Linked DNA regions of Homo sapiens: region 2 is linked to region 1. The links come from fine-mapping of genetic effects on gene expression. A gene starts in region 1. The other region holds a variant in brackets. All regions are shown on one strand. Distances are from middle to middle. Region 1 holds the start of PTER (phosphotriesterase related). Region 2 overlaps PTER (phosphotriesterase related).

Region 1 (12,837 bases):
TTGGATGTTTGTCATTCAGACTGCAAGGTACGCTTGATTATGTACATTTTTTTCTTAACTGCTTGATGAACTCTATCCAAGTCATTTAATAATGTTGCTTCCCTTTTTACCTAATTACATAAATGTTTAAAGTCACGAGCATTAAGCTCTCCTCCAAGTAATGTTAGTTAAAAAGAAGTTCCTGAACTGAGGAGATTCTCCAAAGATGTGTAGTCATCACTTGGAAGGTCAAATTTAACAATCAAAGAAAATAACTCCAAAAACAGTAGCTTCCAAACAGACCATTACTATTGCAGTGGAGCATTTTGGGCTCAGTTGTATCTCCCTGCAAAATTTGTCTGTTGCAGCCCGAACCCTCAGCACCTTAGGATGTGGTTGTATTTGCAGATAGTCTTTACAGAAGTAATTAAGTTAAAAGGGGGTTGTTAGGGTAGGTCTCAATCCAATAGGACTGGTGTCCCTATAAAAGATCAATACCCAGACATGCATAAAAGGGAAGACGGCCATCCACAAGCCAAAGAGAGAGACCTCAGAAGAGGCCAACACTGCTGACACCTTGATCTGGGACTTCCAGCTGCCAGAGCTGTGAGAAAATAAATGTCTGTTGTTAAAGCCACCCAGTTTGTGGTATTTTGTGATGGCAGCCCTAGGAAGACAAACATAGTGAGTAATCAAGGTCATCTAATCTAAGCTACAGAAATGGCCCTTAATTACACCTGGGGGCTCTACATTTTATTTCATCTTATTTTTATTGTTTTTGAGACAGAGTATCACTCTGTCACCCAGGCTGGTATGCAGTGGCACAATCTTGGCTCACTGCAACCTTCGCCTCCCGGGTTCAGGCGATTCTCCTGCCTCAACCTCCTGAGTAGCTGGACTTACAGACGTATGCCTGGCTAATTTTTGTATTTTTAGTAGAGATGGGGTTTCGCCATGTTGGCCAGGCTGGTATCGAACTCTTGACCTCAAGTGGTCCGCCTGCCTTGGTCTCCCAAAGTGCTAGGATTACAGGCATGAGACACCACGCCTGGCCTGCAGGCTCTGAATTTATAAAGTGAGAAGAAAATCTGTCAAAAGAGCTGGCCAGGCACATGCAAGTCAACCTAATTCTTATTTACTTATTTAATAGAGATGGGAGTCTCACTGTTGCCCAGGCTGGTCTTGAACTCCTGAGCTCAAGCAATCCTCCCGCCTTGGCCTCCCAAAGTGCCGGGATTACAGCATGAGCCACCGTGCATGGCCAACCTAACACTTTTAAACAAATTCTGATGGCAATCAGATGACAGCTCAGGGCATGGGCTCTGACCAAATAAATCTTTATTTCAATTTCTCAATTACATGGTCGGGCTTTATCTGTCCTCCAAACTGTTAGAGAGCAAGACTGATAACATCTAACCTTTCAGATATGCAAGAATGTAGGAGATGAGACATGTCGAATTGTCAAGGCATAAACATGAGATAACTTTGAGAATTTATGAAAATTTAAAAAATGTTTTTAAAAATCAACAAACAAATAATTTGGAAAATAGTAAGCCACATCAGGAAAGAAATTTTGTGGGTACACAGTAACACCAAGGATTTTGTGGTCGCAATGGGCTTTCAGTTACATAAAAGAGCACGAAATTAACAATATTTACCAATATTCTCTTCAAAGTGCTCTTCACACACCAAATAATTACCCAATTAAGCCACTGCAAGATAAGTTGCTATTACTCTGGATTTAGTAAAAAGAACTAATAATTACTCTTTTAACAGTTTCTGTGAAGAAAGAACTCAGTGTTTACCATACACAAGTGAGCACATCCCACCCGTTTAATAAGTAGGGAACAGGAAAAAAAAAAAGGCTGATTATGTAAGTGAATTCAGTGGAGGACACAGATGACTAAGAACCACAACCTGTGAAAACAGAGAATTTAATATGTAAAGCAGAGACCACCATTGGCAAAAGGCTATTTATGAATACTGCCAATACTTAGCATTGCCAGCTGACAATAGAAGATCTTCGGTCATGCCCCGAACAACATAATTCATCACACTAGTGCTTGGGCCAGTCACGTCCAAGCAATTTATCATCATCATATCACTCGCCTGACTATAATAAGGGGAGAACTTTGATTGTTAACCTCTAGGGAGACTGGATTTATAGCCAGTGTCCCCTAAGAATGCAGCACAGCTCTGTCCAAAGCACAATGCTCCCGGCTTGCCTTCTGTTTAACTCAGAATAAAAGAGTGAACACACTGCCCCTAGGACATTAACAGCAAAACCTAAGTCTGATACTCTTAGATCCGAAATCAGATAGCCAGGAAATCATATTTAAAATACTCTTTGAAGCTGCCTGAAAAAAAACGTATTAGTCAATGGTAAGTACGGATGATTCATTTCAAATGTCCTTCAGTGACAAAATAATTTCTGAAATGTATCCACTGATAACTGCATTTGGGAAGAATCATCTTTTCACAACTCACCCACGAACATTCCTCTGTATTGGAAAACTTGGAAGTGCACTGAAAATTGTTAAAAATATATAAATTGTGTTTTTCAAAGTAAAAATGAAAGCCTTGATTCTTATCCCTTCCAGGCATACAGCCTTTACCTATTTTACACTTTAACATGGTCTGCCCTTACAGAATGCAATTAAACATCTAAACGCCATTTTTGCCACTCTTGATTAAAATCACAAAGCAGACTGGAGCATGATGGGAACAGCACACCTGCCATCTCCCACACAGTAAAAGGAGCATGATTCATAGGACAAGCCTCTTTCAGGGCCCTCCCCACAGCTCCCAAGGTATCTGGTAAACCAGAGCCAGAAATCCCCGCATACATGCAGCTTATCTGATAATATTCATTACGCAGGCTTGACCAGGCTAGGCCACAGTAACACTCAAATCCCCGAATCTCAGGGTCTGACCACAACAAAAGTTTATTTCTAGCTCATCGAATACGTCTAACACAGGAAGGCAGGGGGCTCCGCTCACTGTCCTCTATGACCCAGGCTGAGACCACTGCCTCTATCTGGATGGTCACTGCGGCAGAGGGAAAGTGATTGTGACAAATCTTTCACTGGCTTTTAACACAGTTTTACCTGGAAGTGACACAGGTCACTCCACTTGCGTTTCGTTAGCCAAACAAGTCACGTGGACATACCTGCCTGGAAGGAGACAGGGAAATGGCTAACATTCACAGCTCTCACGCTGAGCAGGCACAGAGGTATTTGTACTCAGGTGGTTATTGTTTTGACAAAATAGGTACAACCACAGAGCCAGTTTATGCCAAATGGAACCAGATATTTTATTTTTCTTATTCTTTTTTCTTTTTCTTTTTTTTAAGAGATGATGTCTATGAATGAGAAGCCTTTTGTTATAAAAGTGTTATTAAGGGCCGGGCGTGGTGGCTCATGCCGGGAGGCTGAGGCAGGTGGATCACCTGAGGTCAGGAGTTCAAGAGCAGCCTGATCAACATGATGAAACCCCGTCTCTACCAAAAATACAAAAAAATTAGCTGGGCGTGGTGGTGCATGCCTATATTTCCAGCTAGTTGGGAGGCTGATGCAGGAGAATCACTTAAACCTGGGAGGCAGAGGTTGCAGTGAGTCAAGATAGGGCCACTGCACTCCAGTCTGGGCAATAGAGTGAGACCCTGCCACAAAAAAAAAAAAAAAATCTTGTTAGGAAAACCTGGACCACTGAAAATACACTAGAAACAACAGCTAAAGAAAACAGAACAAAGCCACATTTGATGTATGAAAATATATTCAACAACTACCTCAGTCAAGTTCATAGGGATACTGAGCAGACTCGAGCTTGATCAGAAATTCTCAATATTATTACTATATGGCTTACTAGGGCATTTAATAGATTTGAAGTTGGCTGGCTGCCGTGGCTCACGCCTGTAATCTCAACAGTTTGGGAGGCCGAGGTGGGAAGATCACTTGAGCCCAGGAGTTTAAGACCAGCCTGGGCAACAAAACAAGACCCCCCATCTCTACAAAAATAAATAAACTAATAAATATTTTAAAAAGAAGATATTTAAGGATAAACATTCCTCCTGTATGAATGGGTCCTGTATGTATGTATGTCCTGTATGAACACTTTGCACATGGAAGCAAAGGTGGACATTTACCAAGCTCCTCTCATGCTATACAGTTCATCATTTTGTCTTTAAGCTTAAAACTGAGACAATCTCTAAAATTCTTGCATCAGGGCTGCTTACTCAACTTAAAATAGTCACAGGGATCCTATGGCCAAGTCCTGGCACTGAGTACACGGTCATGTACTTCTCCAGATTCTAAATGATCTATTTTTGTGTTCTCTTACTCTCTGCTTCTATTTGGCTCAAAATTTACTGACACTTCAAAGGATATTAAATTGCATTTTTTTTCAGAAATGCTTCTCACTTTAGCCATATTGAAGGTATTTTCTGTCCTTCACAGGGAAGGGGAAATTTGCCCAGTGAAACTGATCTTTCCCTAAGTCCCTCCAGAAAAGCCACTGTCCTGATTTTCCTCCTGTCTCACTAGCCACCTTCTGGCTGGATACTCCGCTACTGACCTCCAAAATACACATTTATTGATCTTTGATTGAATAAACAGACCCTTCCTGACTACCTTGTAATTTCAGCAGCAAATATGACCCAAAACTGGAAGACCCTCTCAATCTATTCTGGTTTGAGGGCTGCCCAATTAAAAAGGAAAAAAACTGGCCCAAAATATCATTAAATGGTAAAATCAGGATCTTATCCTCATAAATCCATAGATTATTACATCCACTAGCGACCTAGAGACCACTTACCTTTTTTTTTTTTTTTTTTGAGACAGAGTCTTGCTCTGACACCCAGGCTGGAGTGCAGTGGTGTGATCTCAGCTCACAGCCGCCTCTGCCTCCCAGGTTCAAGCAATTCTCGTGCCTCAGCCTCTCCAGTAGCTGGGATTACAGGCATGCCCACCACCATGCCCAGCTAATTTTTTGAAGAAAAGAGGTTTCACATGTTGGCCAGGCTGGTCTCGAACTCCTGGCCTCAAGTGATCCACCTGCCTCAGCCTCCCAAAGTGCCGGGATTACAGGTGTGAGCCACCGCGCCTGGCCTGAGACCACTCACCTTAATGTGTCTAGAAAACAGGCAGGCCAGGCGCAGTGGCTCACGCCTGTAATCCTAGCACTTTGGGAGGCCGAGGCAGCCAGATCATTTGAGCCCAGGAGTTTGACACCAACCTGGACAAAATGGCAAAACCCCGTCTCTACCAAAAATACAAAAAAAAAAACAAAAAACAGAAAATAAAAACTAGCCGGGCGTGGTGGTGTGCACCTGTGGGAGACTGAGCTGGGAGGATCACTTGAACGGGGGAAGTGAAGGTTGCAGTGAGCTGTGATAGCACCACTGCACTCCAGCTTTGGTGAAATAATGAGACCTAGTCTTAAAAAGCAAGAGGCCGGGCGCGGTGGCTTACGCCTGTAATCCCAGCACTTTAGGAGGCCGAGGTGGGTGAATCACAAGGTCAGGAGTTCGAGATCAGCCTGGCCAGTATGGTGAAACCCCGTCTCTACTAAAAATACAAAAATTAGCTGTGTGTGGTGGAGCGCGCCTGTAGTCCCAGCCACTCAGAAGGCTGAGGCAAGAGAATCGCTTGATCCCGGGAGGCGGAGGTTGCAGTGAGCCGAGATCGCACCACTGCACTCCAGCCTGGGCAAGGGCGAGACTCTGTCTTTAAAAAAAGCAAAAGAAAACCAACTTGTAGAAAGTCACTGAGCTGGAACCAGAACTAGAATAGGGCTCTACTCTTTCTGGGTCCAAAGTTCTTTAAATCAGCAACCCCTCTTACTGCCTATGTAAGGGTATACCTTTAGTTCCTGTTGACTTGGGATGTACAAAGAATGAGGTAGTCTAAGAGAGTAACAGCACACTGGCTGTGGAGTCAGAAAGACTCCACCTCTAAACTTTGTTTCCATCTCTAAACTTTCCAGCAGTGTGGCCTAATTTTTCTGTACCTTAGCTTTGTCGTTATCACTAGAATCCTTCACAGGGCTGCAGAGTGGATTAAGCAAGAGTGCACAGGACTCAGACATATGACCGCTGGTAATTGGCTTTTATAAACTGTCAAAAAATATAGACCTGTAATGCCAGCACTTTGGGAGGCCGAGGCAGCAGACTGATTGAGCCCAGGAGTTCGAAACCAGCCTGGGCAACATGGCGAGACACTCTCTACAAAAAATACAAAAATAACCGGACATGGTGGCACGTGCCTGTAGTCGCAGCTACTCAGGAAGCTCAGGAGGCTGAGGCAGGAAGTTCGCTTGAGCTCAGGAGGTCGAGGCTGCAGTGAGCTGTGATCGCGCCAAATGCACTCTAGCCTGGGAAGCAGAGCCAGACCCTGAATCTAAAAAAAAAAAAAAAAAAAAGCTTATTAAAGGAGGCTTAGCACAGCTACCCGATGACGCCCCCGGGCATTGCTGTCGAGCCACAGGGAGCTGGCGCCACACGGGACTGGCGCTCTTTGCAACGTCCCTCAAGCACTTAAGGAGAGGCGGCAGGGCCCAAGCGCAGCGGCTAGAAAATCCTTCCTTCCGGCAGGACCCTCGCGTGGAGCTCTGCAGCGAACCCTGGCCGCGCGGCCTCCGCCGTCGGGCCCCACTCTTCCTACTGGGCCCACAGTTCCGGCTCCTGCTCTGACTCCAAGAAGCCTTACCTCGGGTACAACGCGCTGCCTTCTCCCTGGGAACTTCCGGCAGGCCAACTTCCCTGGCCTTTTTAGTCTCCCCTGTGCCCTCCCACTTCGCCCTCTGGTTCTCTCCCCGCCCCTGGCCCGAGGTCACGCCCTCACCGAGTCCTAGGACACGCCCCGTGGGTCCTTGCCAAGCCCTACCTCTTCGTAGGACACGCCCTTCAAACCCTTGCCACGCCCCACCCTGGTCCGGGGCCGTTCCCCGCGTTTTTGCCTGGCCACACCCTCCTGCAGGCGCTGTCTGACTGTCGGTAGTTTGGCTGAATGAAAAAAATTCGGGGCTAGATCCCCAAACGGAAAGAAACTGTTGCATTTTCCCCAGATCCCAGTTCTCCATAGAACAGTCTGGAACAAGGGAGCATTCCGTAGCTCTTTTGGTTTTCCCCAAGAATAAATCGGAGGTGGTGCTCTGGCAATTTGATGTCACAGTGGGTTCTGGATCCTCATGCTGCATACGGAGAACTTTGGTTTTTGTGTTCCCACTTGTCACTGTTTCCTGCCCCGGTGCCGCGTTTCCTTCTCTTTAGAATTAGAGTGCCGTGCTAGAGCACTTGAACTGGCCCTGGTACTTGCTGTGACTGAAATAAACTTAGTATGTGTGAGTCTGTTGGCAAAACATGATGCTTGGAGCAGCTGCCACAGTAAAGAGTCATACCTTTAGGTATTGTAGGGGGCCAAGGGCAAACCTCTCCTTCGTCCTCTGAAAGTTTGCTGAAAATCAACTGACAAAAGACAGTTTCACAGTAGAAAAGGCATACAAATATACTAGATCGTAACTTTATGTGATCCGGGAGCCTTCAGAATGAAAACCCAAAGATGCAGGGGAAACGGTCCATTTTTTCGCTTAGGTTCAATAAAGTATGGACCGCCATGTATTCAGCTGGTGCAAAAGTAATTGCGGTTTTTAATGGCAAAAACCGCAATTACTTCTGCACCAACCTAAGAGATACTACGATGGCATAAAAAGGGTCTGAGCTAATGCCAATAGACTAAGTGAGCAAGCCCTGTCTGTTTAGATTCTTTTTGGCTTTTCTGTGCAGTGTTCCTTCCTTCTGGGTATAGAGCAGGATCCTTTCTGGAATGGGGGTCTTATGACCTACAGTCAAACAAAGCAGGGCAGAGAATTTCTTTACCGCCAGTTTTGACACAGAAAGGCAGGGGACACGCAGAGTCAAACTTTTAGGTTTTATGCTTGGCTTTGGGGATGAGGGGTTCTGGCTTCTGTGAATCACCTTGGGGAAGAGGGATTCCAGTTTCTAGAATGAGGGGCCAGAGGCAGGAGGACATGAGGTTAGAGAGAGCTGCTTCTAAGGCCTTCATTTTGGGGTATCATTTTCTGAACCCCAACCATATTACACTGTCATCAATTATTATTATTATTATTTTGAAATGGCTCTGTTGCCCAGGATGGATTTCAGTGGTGCAGTCATAGCTCACTGCAGCCTTGAACTCCTGGGCTCAAGGGATCCTCCTGCCTCAGCCTCCTGAGCAGCTGGGACTACAGGTGTGCACCACCACACTCAGCTAATATTTGTAATTTTTGTAGAGATGGAGGTCTCGCTATGATGCCCAGCCTGGTCTCAAACTCCTAAGCTCAAAGGATCCTCCCACCTCAGCCTCCCAAAGTGTTAGGACTACATGCATAAGCCACAGCACAAGGCCTAGTCAATTAATTTTATCCTGAATTCTGAGAAAAAAGAGAATAGGTATGCAGATGGGCAGAAGCTACAGATGTCATTTCAAAGGAAAGTAGAGTTTTAATAATAATATTAATAGATGATGTTTATCGGGGCCAACTCTACCAGGTTTTGTAATGGGTGTATGTTATTTTGTTTAAGATTTTGAGCAACCTGCATGTGGCAGGAGCTATTTCCCTCCAATTACAGACAAGAAAACAAACTTAGGCAAGCACCTTGTTCAAGGATAGGACTAGGGACCCAGATTAGTTGATATCAGTCACTACACTTGCCTTCTTAGTAAAGAATGGGGAATTTTTTTGGTTTGTTTGTTTGTTTGTTTTTGAGACAGAGTCTTGCTCTGTTGCCCAGGCTGGAGTGCAGTGGTGCAATCTCACCTCACTGCAGCCTCCACCTCCTGGTTTCAAGGGATTCTCCTGCCTCAGCCTCCTGAGTAGCTGGGATTACAGGCACGCCCCACCATGCTCAGCTAATTTTGTGTAATTTTAGTAGACATGAGGTTTTGCCATGCTGGCCAGGTTGGTCTCGAACTCCTGACCTCAACTGATCCACCTGCCTTGACCTCCCAAAGTGCTGGGATTACAGGCGTGAGCCACCGCACCAGGAGAGAATGGGGTGCTTTGATAGGAGATTAATAGAAATAAATTAATTCATTTAAATCAGAAAAAAAGGAGGAGAAAAGGATATACAGGTCTCGTTCTCTGTTTTTTGTTTTTTAAGGGTAAAAGTACAAGAAGTCATTTAGAAAAGGGGTTGGTTGGTAAGGGACAGTCAGGGAGAAGATACTGAGGAAAAAATTGGTTCTTAAGGAGGGTGGCTGGGTAAATCCTAGAAACAGAAAAGGGATAAAAATAGGGCCCAAGAGTAGGAAAGACAAGAATAACTGTAGGGGTTAAGAACTGCAGAGGCATGAGTGCTGGGACAGTTGGATATTAGTAGCAATGACGGGCTCACACTGAGATTCTGTAATGAGGAGATGGATCCAGGGAGGCTTCTGGAGTGATTTCAGTGCTGGCTCCCACTTTGTGTGTGCTACAAGCATGGAGCCATATAAATGTGTACCCGACAGTGGGTGGTAAGGAGAGGCTCGAAAGTCCATTATTTATAATGTTACGTATTTTAGTAGTCTATGCTGCTAGATGTTAAATGATACATGAGGTCCTTGTTAAAAAATGACTTCAGGCCAGGCGCAGTGGCTCACGCCTGTAGTCCCACCACTTTGGGAGGCCAAGGTGGGCAGATCACTTGAGGCCAGGAATTGGAGACCAGCCTGGCCAACATGGTAAAACCCCATCTCTACTAAAAATACAAAAATTAGCCGGGTGTGGTGGTGCATGCCCGTAGTCCCAGCCACTCAGGAGGCTGAGGCATGAGAATTGCTTGAACCTGGGAGGTGGAGATTGCAGTGAGCTGAGATCATGCCAGTGCACTTCAACCTAGTGACAGAGAGAGACCCTGTCTCAAAAAAAAAAAAAATTGAAAAGTAAACTTTAGTTTTTCTTTATGGAAGTTACTAAATTCTCCACTGCCCACAGTAAATCCACTGAGCAAGATTTGTGATGGATTTCAAATGCACGCTCTTATTTCTGTGGCTTTACTCCTTAAAAAGATACTAGTAAAGAGATTTTATTTCTTTTTTGAAAGAAGCAGCTACAAAGAAATTTCAAATTAATATGCAGGAGATTTATTTCAGGAACTTTCTCAAACTATTGCCTACAGGTGTGTTCAAAGAAAGGCAGAGGCCAGGTGTTGTGGCTCACGTCTGTAATCCCAACAATTTGGGAGGCCAGGGTAGCAGATCCCTTGAGGCCAGGAGTTTGAGACCAGCCTGGCCAACATGGTGAAAACCTATCTTCCCTAAAAAAACAAACAAACAAAAAAAACAGGCCAGGTGCAGTGGCTCATGCCTGTAATCCCAGCATTTTGGGAGGCCGAGACGGGTGCATCACAAGGTCAGGAGTTCCAGATCAGCCTGGCCAAGATGGTGAAACCCTGTCTCTACTAAAAAACATACACACACACACCCACACACACAAAACTAGCTAGGTGTGGTGGTGGGTGCCTGTAATCCCAGCTACTCGGGAGGCTAAGGCAGAGAATTGCTTAAACCCGGGAGGCAGAGGATGTATTGCGCCAAGATCACGCCACTGCACTCCAGGCTGGGCAACAGAGCGAAACTCCATCTCAAAAAACAAAACAAAACAAAACAAAAATTAGCCAAAGGTCATGCCGTGCACCTGTAGTCTCAGCTACTCAGGAGGCTGAGGCAGGAAAATAGATTAAACCTGGGAGGTGGAGATTGCAGTGAGCCGAGATCGTGCCACTGCACTCCAGCCTGGGAGGTACAGCGAGACTCCATCTCAAAAAGCAAAAACAAAAACAAACAAACACAAACAAACAAAGAACAGTGGAGAAAATCATGTAAATCCAATGCACAAGAATGGAAAACTTTTTAGCATATAGCACCTGTGTACATACTGTAATCCTATTTCACTAAGCACTGTTGTTAGTTAAACACTAAATGCTACTGAATCTTTTAGAAAGTAAAATAAACATTCTTCACTACCGGACTCAAAATCTACTAGCCCTGGGATAGGCAGACAAGAATGGGTGAAAAGGGTTCTTGAGGATGTTCTGCTGTTAAACATGATAATCTGGCATCAAGCTTGTGCCCAACTTTATTTTTCAGTCTTTCTTCCTAGAGAAGCTTAACTTGGAAATAATTTTTGAAACCAAGAATATCAATGTACTGTCGTATGTCTGTGATGAAGTAGCAAAGTTGAAAATCACATTATTAAGGAACCGAGTTTCCAAATCGATCTCTCAGTTAAAGGTTTAGTTCAAATGCACTCTCATTTCTACAGTACTTGCTTTTCCTTTTCATAGTATCTTTGAATTTTGACAGTACCTGTACCCGGGAACACTAAATTGGCAAAAAGAACGAAATCAAAAGCAAACATCCAAAGCCCCTGCTATTTGGGTTAAAATTCTAGAAAACACCCAGGTTTTCATCACCCTAGTTAGTTGTTTTAAATATTTACACAAAAGTAGTCTACAGAAACAATCTGGGGAGGGCAAAATAGAAAATAATCCAGATAATTATCAGATAAGCAGCAGGAAAAAAAAGCAGGACCTATGATGTCAATTCTATCAATGATGTTGCTGTTAGGTTTTAATTGTTAATTGGAAGCTGAAATTTACAGTGCTGCAGAGATTTTCTTGGTTTAATTTTGAGTCATGGTGTGATAAGCCATTCCTATCATTTATAGGACACCTATTAGATACTAATGTCACAAGAGAACTAGAACAGAACTTTGAACACACAGATCGTTTTCTATCAAATTCCTATTCTTTGTACCCCCCAGAAAATACAACTAAGTATTCAATGTATATTATTACTTCACTTAGAAGCAAAGGAAAAGTGAAATTTAAATCATTCTAGATCTTTTTTTTTTTTTTTTTGAGATGGAGTCTCTCTCTGTCGCCAGGCTGGAGGGCAGTATCGGCTCACTGCAACCTCCGCCTCCCGGGTTCAAGTGATTTTCCTGCTCAGCCTCCTGAGTAGCTGGGACTACAGGCATGCACCACCATGCCCAGCTAATTTTTGTATTTTTAGTAGAGACGGGGGTTTCACCATGTGGGCCAGGATGGTCTCGATCTCTTGACCTCATGATCCGCCTGCCTCAGCCTCCCAAAGTGCTGTGATTATAGGCGTGAGCCACGGCGCCTAACCTCATTCTAGATCTTAAAGAGCCAGATTGAGAACACACAACCCCGATACTGAGTGAGCCTTTCATCCAGGACTATGTCTTCATCAGTACGTTTTTACAACCTTTTGTAGAAGCCAACTACAAGTTTGTCTTAAAAAATATTTTGACTTTATAGCTGCTGTGGATAATGGGCAGGCAATTCCTCAAAAAAAATCCATCATAATTGCCATGTGATCCAGCAATTCCACTTCTTAGTGGAATTCTACCAAAGAAGTAAACGCAGGAGCTCAAACAGTCTTTTATAGCATTATTCACAATAACCAAAAAGGTGGAAGCAACCCAAATGTCCAACAGATGAGCAGATTATTAAGAAAAGGGGGCATATAGGCACAATAGAATATTATTTAACCTTAAAAAAGAATAAAATTCTGGGCCAGGCGCGGTGGCTCATGCGCGTAATCCTAGCACTTTGGGAGGCTGAGGTGGGTGGATCACCTGAGGTCAGGAGTTCAAGACCAGTCTGGCCAACGTGGTGAAATCCCATCTCTACCGAAAATACAAAAAATTAGCCAGGTGTGATGGCGGGCCCCTGTAATCCCAGCTACCTGGGAGGCTGAGGCAGGAGAATCACTGGAACCCAGGAGGCAGAGATTGCAATGAGCCGAAATCACACCATTGCACTCCAGCCTGGGCAACAAGAGAGAAAATTCG
Region 2 (12,837 bases), 74 kb before region 1:
ATACTTTGTGTAGAATGTAAGATCACAGATGGAAACATCAAAGACCAGTAAATTAACCTGATGTGCCACTTAACCTTTTGTTTATGATTCCACAGAAGTACAATGAAAATGAAATTACGAGAACATCAGTAGCAATTAATTAAATTACAAATGTCACCATAAATATGATCTCTAATGATAGATCCTCACTAATAAGATAATGCTAAAACTATGAAACCTATTGCAGACACAGAAACATATCCCTAAAATGACCGCAGCTCTCATACTCCCCATGAAGCCATCAACCTAAATTTAATCCTACCATTTGTTGAAAGCCCATGACAGTGCATATTAAAGGTAAAAGTTCAACTCAAATAGCTTTACATTTGGAAAGAGGAAATCTCTTTAATGTTGATAATCCTTTTAGCAGAAAACATGAAGAAAAATTGCTATTTGAATACAATCACTCTAATGCCACTATAATAAATAAGCCACTCGAATGAAAACTAATACTGTTTCAGGATTAAAAGCATAAAATAATTAAAGACCAGTTGGTACTCTTAAAAATTTATTAGTTATGGCACCGATGCCCATGAAATATTTTTAAAAGGATGAGTGGTTTGTGGGTTGGTATTCGCTTATTAGAGAGATCAATGACATGTCAAATTCATAATCTTTTTAGGGTTAAAGAAATACGGACTAAACATAAAGCAGAATCTAAATAGTTATCTTGTAATAAGAAAAGATATTAGAGTAAATTCAGGTAGAAATCGGTTGATTGCGCTGAAGGAAGGATGGATCTTATTCCCAGACAGAATGCTGAAATCACTGTACATTTAGGAATCTGGAAACAGCCTCCAGGGTGAACACATTGCCTTCCTCAATAGTTTGATGGCTTGAAAGAATTGTTGAAGTCACTGAGCTGAATACTAGAGCTTGAAATTTCAAGTCCTGTTATATCTTTAGAGTAGGATCAGGTGAGCAGCCATACCAAAATCATGCCAGGTACACTGGAGTATGGCAATTATTTAATTGGGACAGTCTTACGGTACAGTATAGGTTAAAATCTTACAGAATTACATTCATTAAAAAGCAACCACACTGGCTTGATCCAACAAAGGTGGTAGAAACTGTGAGGGTAACCTTTCAGTCTGTGGAATCACTCTAATGCATTCGCAGGAATTTGTGGTTACGCCTACTGAATAAAAATGGTGACGTTCACTCGGTTTTGTGGTTACACCCTGGAGAATAAAAATGGCATTATATTTTTAAAAGGATTATTGTGTCTAAATCAAGTAATTTTAGTATGTCCTGTTTCTCCAATACCTTCATGTAGAAAACCATGTTAAAGCCCAGTAACCATAGAACATGTCCTAAATACCCAAAGCACTGAATAAAATATGTCTGGTTATTAGTAATAGCTGAGGAGTATATTATGGGTTGATAACTAATGTATTACTAATATAGCTCATGAATATTTTGTTTTTAATTTTTTTCACCATTAAAAATCCAAAGATGAGAAAAAAACACAAGTCATAATAGCAATATCCTTCTTGTAGATTTGTTTCCCTGGGAATTAATGGCTAGATGAAATTAATGAATCAAAGCATTCAACTCCTACAAACTCATGATTAATCTTTAGAAAATATTATGAAGTCAAACTGCGTCATTATTTAATGGTCAAAACGGACCACTTTACTAAATTGGCATATATATTGGAGTCAGTGCTTCCAAGCATAATTACATGGTATATTGCTTTCATTATATTAGTGCCTGTTAGTACAGCGTTAAGCAATTCTAAATCCTTTAAGCCATTTTCTCCTTTTGCTATGTGATACCCAGAAAGACACTTTAAAGATACTACTCAAATGACTTTACAAGTTCAGCAGTGTTAAAGAGTCTTCTTTTTTTAACATTTCAGCATTAACGTGAGACTATATCACAAGAAAATTTAATTGGAAAACTCATCATTTAAATTTTGAAAGAAATGCATGGAAATTCTTGACTTCTGTCTCATTTCTCTCATTTTGCCAAGTGATAAAATCCAGCATATTGTACCCCAAATCATGCATTATTACATAGTGCAGGTTTACAAAACCACTAAATCACTTGCTATGTTATTCAGGGAAATATCATTATAGTGGAATAGAAATGAAACAAGCCACAAAGTAGAAGATGTTTTACTGAAATAAATCAAATCTAAGTCTGCCTGTTGAAAGATTTTCCAAGGCAGAATCACAATATATCTAAATGAATATGAAGCCTAATTTGAGCTAAGGATCTGACAGAATGTCCACAATGCATGAGATGATAGGCAATTTGACTGTTTGTAAATGTCTATCAACTCACTAATGAGATCACAGGCTTACCATGGGCAGATTATAAGCAGCCTCTGCCCTCAAATCAAGCCACATATTTAGAATCTCCTAAGTGTAAGTGGATATTCAACGAAATCATTCAAAAATTCTTGAAACTTGAGAGGCCTCAGAGCATGAAAATTTAGTCCTTTCTTTAACTTTTAGATATGTTGAGGTTAAATTCTTGATTTAAATGCACATGTCATAGTTAAGTAATAAAAAGACACGATGGAAAAAAGAACTCTGAAAACTCAGGTGATATAATCAAAGATGTATAAATGAGCTAAGCTTCTGAAGCAGCCTGGTAAAGGGGGCTTTACATGAATTAGATTTGGAAAGCCCTAAATCAAAAGACTTTTTCTTTTTTTTTTTTTTCTTTGTAAGTAGTAGAGGAGTTGGTATTTTCCTGGGTATTTTTAGCTATTACATACCTCAATTTTCTAATAATTGTGGTGAACAGCTGAACTTAGACTTGAACTTCTGTACTCATAAACAGCTGATTAGAATATTGCTATCTGGCTTAAATTAAAATGCAAAAAATACTATTAGTTTCATTTCAAAATGTGATTGGGCATAGGGATCGAAGGAGTTAGAAAAACGAGTGATACAGGAAGATAATAAATTGTATGCATAGTTTAGAATGTGTAGTTAGATAAGACTGCCAGAATGGTCCCCACTGAAGCACTATTTTGTCCCTTTCTGTCCTCCTTCTCACTAACGTAGCGGAAACTGCCACAGCACTATCCTCATAAAGCTCTGAGGTCAACATGGACTTTGCTATGCTAAATTCTGTACTATGGCAGCAAGTCAGCTTGTGATGCTACATGAATGGCAAAAAAGAAAACTTGAGAATTCTCATTTACGCATCCTAATTCTTGTCTGTTTCACATAGGTGCGTGCTAGTGCAATTGCCCAAGATGCTGATCAGAATTACGACTATGCCAGTAACAGTGTGGTTCTTCATTTGGAGCCGGGAGATGAAGTCTATATCAAATTAGATGGCGGGAAAGCCCATGGAGGAAACAACAACAAATACAGCACGTTTTCTGGATTTATTATTTATGCTGACTGATAATGCAGAAACTAAGCTTATTATTCTGAGTTTGAACACTGGATTCGTATGGCTAACGTCAGTGAATCAAGGATCCCAGGGGATGCCAATGGCAGGGCACCTCAGTTGTGTATATGTGGGGAAATCAAATGCTACCTGACTCACATCTGTATCACTCAGAAACATTATGTAAAAAATATCAAAGCAAGATAAGCAGATGTGTGATCCACTACCGCCAAAGCAAATACTCCTTATCGTTAGTGTCCATGTGAATGAAGTCCTATATAGATCACAAATTTTTATAGACAAATCTAAGACATTGAATTATTTCTTCTATATATATGATACTTTGGTGTACTGTGATCTTGCTGCTTTTATCCATATGTCAGCTTTGGTTCTTGTGAGTTTACCTGCTTATTATGATACTTGGAGTCCATTCATAGTGTGGGGAAGAATGATTTTTGCCCTGCAGGAGAAGGTCTAATTGAAATAATGCTGCTTGTCCCCAAAGAAATTGTTTGCCTTGTACTCTTGTTAACCTTAGAGCTAGACCTGGGAATGATTCAACTTCAAGCCTTAACCTGGAATTTTCTGGATTTGAGGGAATTCCCAAGCCTATGATCTTTTTCACATTTTCTTTTTCTTATATGAATTTTCTTTTCTCTCTTTTCTGGTGATAGTCTTTAAAAATAGAGATTGACAGTGTATCATAGGATTACCCTCTAAGTGTGAAAATGTGTAATTATGTACGGTATTTAGAAAAAGCCCTTATGTGTCCATTTTGTCAACTGAATACATTTAGATTCACTGGGAAAGTCAGAGAAATTTATTCTTTAGTATCAAATCAAACCGAGGCTTTTGCCATCTTTGGAAGAAAAGATTATTCATAACCCAATGCACAAAGGTTTAATTTGAGCTGCTGCATACGTCACCAAGGGGACACTAGGTGAGGCCTTCAAATGATTACTACAAGTCTGTGGCCTGAGGTTATTTTAAAATTAACAATTTCGCATATAGCCTATATGACAACAGAGTGTTTATATTTTATACAAATATCTGCTAAACATGCACACATATACTCACACACACATATATATATTAGATGAAATGTTTTATTTATGTATAAAACATATACATATAAAACATTTATATATATGGCTTTATTCCACAGGGCACAGTGGCTGTATAGCCTCAAAATTTTAATATAAAAAAGTGTATGCATATATACACACACAAACATGCACAAATTATTTAACTTATTTTGGGTTAAAATATATTTTGAATGACAATATATGGAGTAGCAAAAACAGTTAAAATGACTTCTCTTTAAGAGTTATCCAGAAAATTAATTGTATTAGGTCAAAATGCCCTTTATTTCACAGGTCTGTAAGTTAAGGCTATGGTTGCTCTATTACCATATGCCAATCAATACTTTAACTGCATTCTGTGACAGACTGTTAATATGAGGACTGCAGACACCAAGTGGCTCTCCTTTGCAGTGTTTATGAATTACATGCATTTGAGCTATCAATTTTTTTTTCTTTTTTCTCAGGTGGAGTGAAGCTGACAGTACAGTAGATTTGGAGAGTAATACAAATCCTTTCTTTCTGGTTAGAACACACTGCCAAAAGCCATCTCTTTCATCTAAGGAAAAGATTAAAAATGCATGTTGATATCTCCTAACTATCACACAACTTCCACTATTACAATGAAAAATCTGTTCCCCTTTCATTGCCTCTGAAAACTCTTTGACGAGTAGATTTCAAAAACAGAGATTTTAAAAATTTGCTTGCTTTACTGGTGAAGGACATTTGCATTTTTTTTTTTTATTTATTTAAAGGAATTAGTTTGTTCTCCTGGCTCATTCCTCTTTGTTACTTTCTGTTCCAATACACAGAAAGCTTGATCATCTTTGATCAGCAGAAATATCTTTTATTTAGCAAAGCTCAACTTCCCAAGAGTTATGCATGGTGTGCCTATCTGAAGGTGGTGTTAGCTCTGTTGAAATGCCTGGGTCTGAGTAACTGTCATGATTTTTATGATTAAAAACAGACTCTTCATCAAGAATAATGACTAATTCTAATTGGTCTTTGTGATATGTAAGATAACTCATAAATGAATTGCAATGGATTTTATTTCGAATTAACTATATATTTATCAAAGAGGAACTGGCAGCAAGGGTTTGGAGAATATTTTTAGGTACCAAATAGCATAGTGAGGATTCAACCAAAAGATGAATTTATAAGCAGCAGTGCCCATCACCTAAGTGTTTTAACTAACAGGTTTTAAAAACATTTTATTTACACAAAATATCAGGGCTGGATACCTTTTAAAGAGGAGGC[T/C]CAAGTATCGGGCTGTCATTTCCAATAGATCTGACCTTTTCTTCAGATACATAAGCATTATTTTCTCTGTTTAGGTCCAAGGAAAAACAAAAGGTAAAGGAAATAAAGGGAATATACATAAGGCAAACATTTCTCTTTTTTTTTTTGCATTATATCTTACCAATTAATTAAATTGTGGCCTTTGTTATTATAAATGTAATGATTCATTAAACTATATTATGTAATATATTTTGACTTTTATGATTGAATTTTTATAATTCAGTAGTGTTATGTGTTCTTATACAAACTTTGCAAAACAGCAAAATGTATGGCAAAAATAGATACCGGAAAGCCAAAGATATCAAAATCATTTCAGTAGAAGAATATATAGATAGGTGGACAGTATAAAATTAACCTTTCAAAATATTTTTATCATTGTGAATTGGTAATTGTATTACAGTCAGTATCCTTTGGGGAAAAAAGTCTCAAAATTTAACTTCCCTTGTTGCAGAAGCTATTTTACAGTGCCATATTATTCATTAAGCATTAATTAAAGAACAGCAGGATAATTAGTAGGATCATCAATATTACAAGAAACATTAGATCGCTCAAGAAGGAAATAATTTAACTAGAAACACTTTAAATTTTCTCAAGTAGTGCAGCTGATAGATTAGGGAGAAAAACAACAACTCCGCTTAGGGGATATAGACTTTAAATCATTGTTTAGAAATAGGTACTTCTGTATTTATTTTGTTAAGTTAAAATAATAGGGCTCAATTAGGCTGAGTAACTCCCTAGAGGCACAGTTGTAATAGCTGGTCTCAGAGAAGGCAAACCCTCCTAGTTCTCATCAGAAGGAAATGATCTGTCATTAGTCCTAGGTAACTGATTAATATCTCACAGTGGACTGGAAATCGCTGAATGTTCTCTGCAAGTTTTATACTCAAGGTGTGAATTCATAAGCAACCATCCTATTTGAAAGTTAGCCATTGCTTAGGGTTCTCTATTAGAATCTTATCAAGCACATTCTCAGTTATGCCTCTCAGCAACATTTTAGGAACAACATTGGTGAGTATATGAGAATAGCCGTGACCTCCATATTTCATCAGCCGGGTTTTCGTATGTATGTCATGTGCTACCAGAATTCGATCTTCACAGCCCTCTTCCACCAGGAGACGCACCCTGTGAAAAATGTTAACTCATTAGATGTCATTTGTCTTTCATTTTCGCTTTTCAGGATGCTTTCAACTTTTTACTCATTAACCTATTGTGCTTGTCGTAAAGATACTGACTTCTACTGTGGCGTGTGTACTGAGAGACCTTTAATAAATATTGTGTGGTGACGATAAAAATATTGCTGCATCCTAGCAGGAACATATCCTTATTCCATGCATACAGAAATTTCTAACCTGTGACATTTATGACCATGCCTGGCAATACCGCATTAAAGATAGCTTCTAATAGGATGTGCCAGTTTGGATGAATGACCATTTTGGCATTTCACTAAATAACTTTGTTCTGGATTTGTATTCAGCAATCCTCTCTCAAATGCCTCTCCCTGTGGGCCCATTTTTCAGATCTCATTCTTGCTCTCTCCTTTTATCTGGCCAAAAAATATCAAGGACTGTTTGCGATTAAAATAGGGAAACAAAAGGAATCTCACTACAAGTAAAATATTCTGAGAGCAAAATCAGTTGGTCTGCAAGTGAGGGGCATTTGATAAGCTACAAAGCCACTGAAAAAAGGTTGGTCAGCATTTTAACCATTTGCCCCTTTGAAGTCTATGGCAATTTTGATTTAGTTGTAGCCTCTGAGCATTGGATTAAACTGACCAATACAAATATATTCTGTCTTCTTTCCATGTCAGCAAGATTGCTAAAATAATAAGCTGTTCCTTTAAATTTATAGTCAGTGGACTAAAGAACAGCTTCCTGACTATTCTCTAAAAATGAAATCCTCTTTGCTTTGTTAAATGCTGGAATCTGTAGTGTGAGTCACCTCCTGACAGCCACCATCTGTACGTGTCTGGACTCTGGGCAGTGTCTGTCGTGACTTCCATGGGTCTTTGATGGTAGAAGATGCCACTCACAGACAATGGCTCTTCTATGGGATTCTCTGAATAGTTTTTTTGGCGTCTAGATTCTAAAGTGGATCTAGACGGACGGACAGTGCCTTCCTCCAGAGGCTGATTATTTGAAAGGTATCTTTTTTGTTTCAAAAGCATTTCTTGGTGTCCTAGTACATGAGTCATATTTAATAACTACTACAGTGAGCAAAACGTGGGGTACTACACACACAAAAAAAACTCAAGCACAAAGCCCTGCCCTCTGAGAACACATATTTTAAAATAAATTATAATGGAAGAATAGACTTTGTATCTGCAGGTCAAAGGAATGCAAGCACTAGCAGAGAAGAACCATGCCTGTCCTATAAGTGCATGTAATGACTTTTGTGCCACTATGATTTTTTGCCTCATTGAAATTTGTATACTATCCTGAAGTTCTGATCTGCAGTTACTTTTGGAACACACTCAGTTTAGGGGAATTATCTAAGATAAGTTATATTATCACATAAAAAGACAAAGATTTGACAGAATGCACACACAATACTGAAGCTTAGGGTGACAAACCTTGATCCACAACTGCAAAGAAGTATCACGGTATAGGAGGTTTTAGGAAACACTTTCTCCCTGATATTTTCTGGGCATTTTCCAAAATTTTTGCCTATGTTTCTTATCTGATAAATATAATTTCTCACACTATAAAGGCAGATCATGTGGATAAACAAATTCCTTTAAGATGTCCTTTGTCAGACCTTGAAACACAATGTTATCAAATCATGAAGTAGAATGAAAGAGTATAGAGGACAAGATACTCATACTTAAAACCGGGAATCCTTAGAACCCATTAAGTCAAGAATCTGGAGACTACTTATGAGAAAGATAACGTTATGGCTCTGGACACACAATCATATCCTGACTATGAAGAAAACCTGCCCCGTCCTGCTTACACTAAAAGATCATCTCTCCTGTTGTGCCATTATATGGAAGAACAGGAGTTACAGAGATGCTGCCAGAAAAGGGGGAGCCACTACAGACGAGAAGACAAAAAATCACGGTAATTATAGAAATACAAATGAGTTAGTGTTTGCAAACAAATATTAGAGAGAGACTACAAAGTGTGAAAAGGCAGAGATATAATAAGATTTGAGAAATGGAGCAGAAGATTGAAAACAGGTGTTAGACACAGAATTTCTGGTGCTGAACACCAGAGGTAGGCAGAAGCGTGCTTCTGTGTTCATGCACTTCAAGGTTTAAGACTACGATGGCTCAGAAAAGGACCCTGTGGTCCTTTCATGCATGATGAAAATCAAGTGTGCAAGACAGTGGGTACTGGAGCACACGCAACCCAAAAGGGCATTCAGTGCTTAACATGGGCTGTCCTTGGGTCAAGCGAGAATGCATGGTTTAATTTAAGGAAGATTAAGCACACACACATACACGTACGTATGGAATAGCACACAGGTATTTTATATATATATACACAGATTTATATTATAATAATTTTTATTATTTCCATACATCCAGAATAGCTATATTTAGCACAGTAAAGGGTAAACAAATGGCTAAAAGGAGCTAAGAAGGAATGCTGGGGGAGCCATCGGTCATCTGACCCTTCTATCTCCTTCACAGATGCCCCTTTACGGATCTTCTTTCTCTTGTTCTAGAAGGTCTGGGAGCCTCATGCGAGACACAGGTGTGCAAAAGATGCACCTCACTACCACAAAGGGGCTTCGGAAAAGGAAGCCGATCCAGAGTGCAAAGTTCCCATTTCCAAGATGATTTAGAAAACATGTGTTGAGGCCGGGCGCGGTGGCTCACACATGTAATCCCAGCACTTTAGGAGGCCGAGGCGGGCGGATCACGAGGTCAGGAGATCAAGACCATCCTGGCTAACACGGTGAAACCCCGTCTCTACTAAAAATACAAAAAATTAGCCGGGCGTGGTGGCGGGTGCCTGTAGTCCCAGCTACTCGGGAGGCTGAGGTAGGAGAATGGCGTGAACCTGGGAGGCAGAGCTTGCAGTGAGGTGAGATTGCGCCACTGCGCTCCTGCCTGGGCGACAGAGCAAGTCTCCATCTCAAAAAAAAAAAAAAAAGAAAAAGAAAAAAAGAAAAAAGAAATAAAACATATGTTGAGGGCATTGATCAGGAAATCATGTTTTTGAGATTGTGAAAGATGAGAATGACTGAATGCACTGCACTATTTTAAATTCCAGATGCCCTTAGGCAAGGAATAGTCTCCTCTGAGTATAAACTAACTACTAGGGCTTTAGGGGAACAGGTTCACCTGTATTGAATCGGGTTCCTGGGCAAGTAAATTAAAATAATAAAACAAAAATAAACAAAGAAACAATACATCTACTTGTCAAATAACTGATCTGAGTATTAAAAGACAGAACTTCATTGGTCAAGACAGGTGAAGTCATTTGCTCATGTAGAGTTGAGAGTTGCCATCTTACTTAACTAATGCAACACTGATTAACTAGCTTTCCCTAATGATACTAAACTTGAAGCATAGTACTATTAATGAGGTGATCAAGGCAGAATGCCAGTACTTGGAGACAGCAGAAGGCATACAGACGTAAATGTGACTTCCCAGGGAAAGATCCTCAGGATGTCCCAACTATGACCACTGGCTCAAGATCTTCCCCTCAACCCAGTGTGCCTTATTCAACTAGCAATACTTGAATCTCATGGTTCCTGGACATCACTTCTCAATTCCAGCTTTGCTACTTCCACGGCAACCACTTTTCTGTTCTCATAATTATATTCTAGTTCTTGTTATCATAGGGAACTACTGCTCCCCCTCTGAAATCTCCATCTTCAGTTTCCCACTCCGATCATGTTACATTTTTCTACTTTTTCCACTCACTTCTTCTACTGTGTATATATATACACACACACATATATATATACACATACACATACAGTATATATATTTGAACATATATATATATATATATATGCTCCACCCACTTCATTAAAGCCTGCAGTCCACTTATTTGCCCTGCTATGCTTTTCCTGTCTATCTGACCATTCCTCTCTATGCTTTCTTCCCTCCAACTTGGATCCCATGACCCTCATCTCAACTCCTCCATTGTTATCCATCTCTTTCAGATAGAATCCCAACCCTCAATCTCTTGAACTGTTCCCATTTTCTGCTTGTACGCACACAACTTCTCTGGTTCCACTACCAAAACGCAAAACAGTTTTGCTTTGGAAAATAATCACCAAATCGTGTGCATTGGTGCCAATACACAGGCATGCAATCATGATTTCTAGACTCAACTAGGTCTCGCACATAACACATCCATGTCAAGATCTCTCTCATTGACCTGACAGCCATTCCTAGCCTTTCTCCTGCTCTACACAGTGCTGCCCTAAATCCACTCTTTTTTTCTCAGGAGATAACCATGTCCACCTCACAGAGACACTAGAGGACATGTGGCCATGTGTCCTCAGTCTCCTGTTTCCCTCACTAAGACTTCTGTTTGCATTCACCCCATCGCTGTGTCATGCCCTCTCATTTCCATGGAGAAAGCATCCTTTCAACCGACTTTCTATTTGTTCCCCAGATTCCATCTATTTGTTGCCTTAGGAACCTTGCTCTATATTTCTTATCTATCCAGAGTTTTTAAAGTCAACATCTATTGAACACTTCCATATTCTGCACCAGACACTCAGACAAAAACTTGGAAAACATTATTTCATGTCAATTCTATAGTAACCCTGTGGAATGGGCACCACTTCCCTGGACTCATTCTCTCTGGCTCTGTCTCTGCTTTTGCTCTTAAGTCACATAAACATTGCTCAACTCTTACTAGAAGCTTCCCTTGATCCTTTATTGACTTGTAACTCCAGACCCATCTCCTTGCTTCCCTCCACTGCCACGCTTCTTGAAAGAGTCACCTCAACATCCTCTCTCCTCTTCCTCACGGCCCACCCATTTCTCAAGCCTTTTCCACTGAGATTGCACTCTGTTTATAAAATGTGAGCCTCCTAATTGTGAAATCCAATGGATGCTTTTCAGTCTTTATTTCCCTTGATATTTGTCACTTATTACCGGCATTCAAGCCCTTCTGCCCTGAGACTTCCTCTCTACTGACTTCCATAAGAATATATATCTCTCATGTTATCACTTTGAAAACTTCTCCTCGACCTTTCCTTGAGAAACGGTTCCTACTCCATTCCTTAAATGTCTCTGTCCCCAGGTCTCTGTCCTCATCTTCTTCTCTGAGTGATGTCATTCATTCCCACGGTTCAACTATCACATACAAACCATATCTTAGGGCTTCACTGGGTAGCAACACTTAGATATTCCCAAACGAAAGCCTTCCTTGTCAATCTCCAATTTATTTCTCCTCCTAGGTATTCTAACTTGGTTCATTCAATCTTCTTATCACCATGTGACCAAGACCAAACTAGGTAGCTATCATTGACGCCTAAAATTTTCTACTTGATTACAAAGAATGACTCCTACAATTATCTGCCAGCATCACACATTATACAGTTTTGGAAGGTTGCATTCATTTTACATAATATTTAGTCTTTAGACCTTATACTTTTAGCATTTAACTTGAAATCACCTTTTTAATGAAAACTTTTGATAAAGCATTTCAAATATTACTTGTAGGAAGTTATGGCTTTAGTGTGGTCAACCTGAGAGAGGAACAGCTTATTTCATTAGGGGTAAATAGAGGAAAATGTCTTTTGTTCTCTGATTTTCATGGCAGGGGTTGGGTATTATCTGTGTTTCCTGTCAGCTGCCCATCTGCACTGAACTTCTAAGGCTCTGCTAAGCTTTAGCCTACTTAGGATGACTCATTTTCTCCTTAAAATAATATAGAGAGATTTTTCTCCCTGAAACAGCATAGATATATTTTTCTCTGCAAGTCTGTGGTTCGGCCTGCTTACTGTTTTCTGAATCTTTGCTAATACTTCCCTAGATATGACAATCAAAAAGGGCTAGGGAAAGGGAATGCTATGAGAGGCTTTACCATATTTACCTTCTAATTCTTTTGTTATCATCAGGCATGTCAATATCTGGGCCGAGTTGGTAATGAAGTAG

Evidence for each region.
Region 2: its variant is fine-mapped to the expression of PTER in whole blood (INTERVAL, PIP 0.96).

The regions. Positions count from the first base shown.
Region 1 is chr10:16,430,894-16,443,730 of GRCh38, reverse strand. PTER (phosphotriesterase related) reads right to left here and starts at 6,721. Exons shown (of 5, transcript NM_001261836.2): 1 at 6,684-6,721. RefSeq lists enhancers at 6,127-6,176, 6,197-6,376 and a silencer at 6,797-6,846.
Region 2 is chr10:16,505,099-16,517,935 of GRCh38, reverse strand. PTER (phosphotriesterase related) reads right to left here. Exons shown (of 5, transcript NM_001261836.2): 4 at 12,776-12,837; 5 at 4,191-6,890. The coding sequence ends at 6,680. It overlaps C1QL3 (complement C1q like 3), which reads left to right. Exons shown (of 2, transcript NM_001010908.2): 2 at 3,229-4,202. The coding sequence ends at 3,408. Among named protein-coding and RNA genes, the nearest start is that of C1QL3, 10 kb to the left of the region's middle. The variant T/C (reference allele first, on the strand shown) is at 5,730.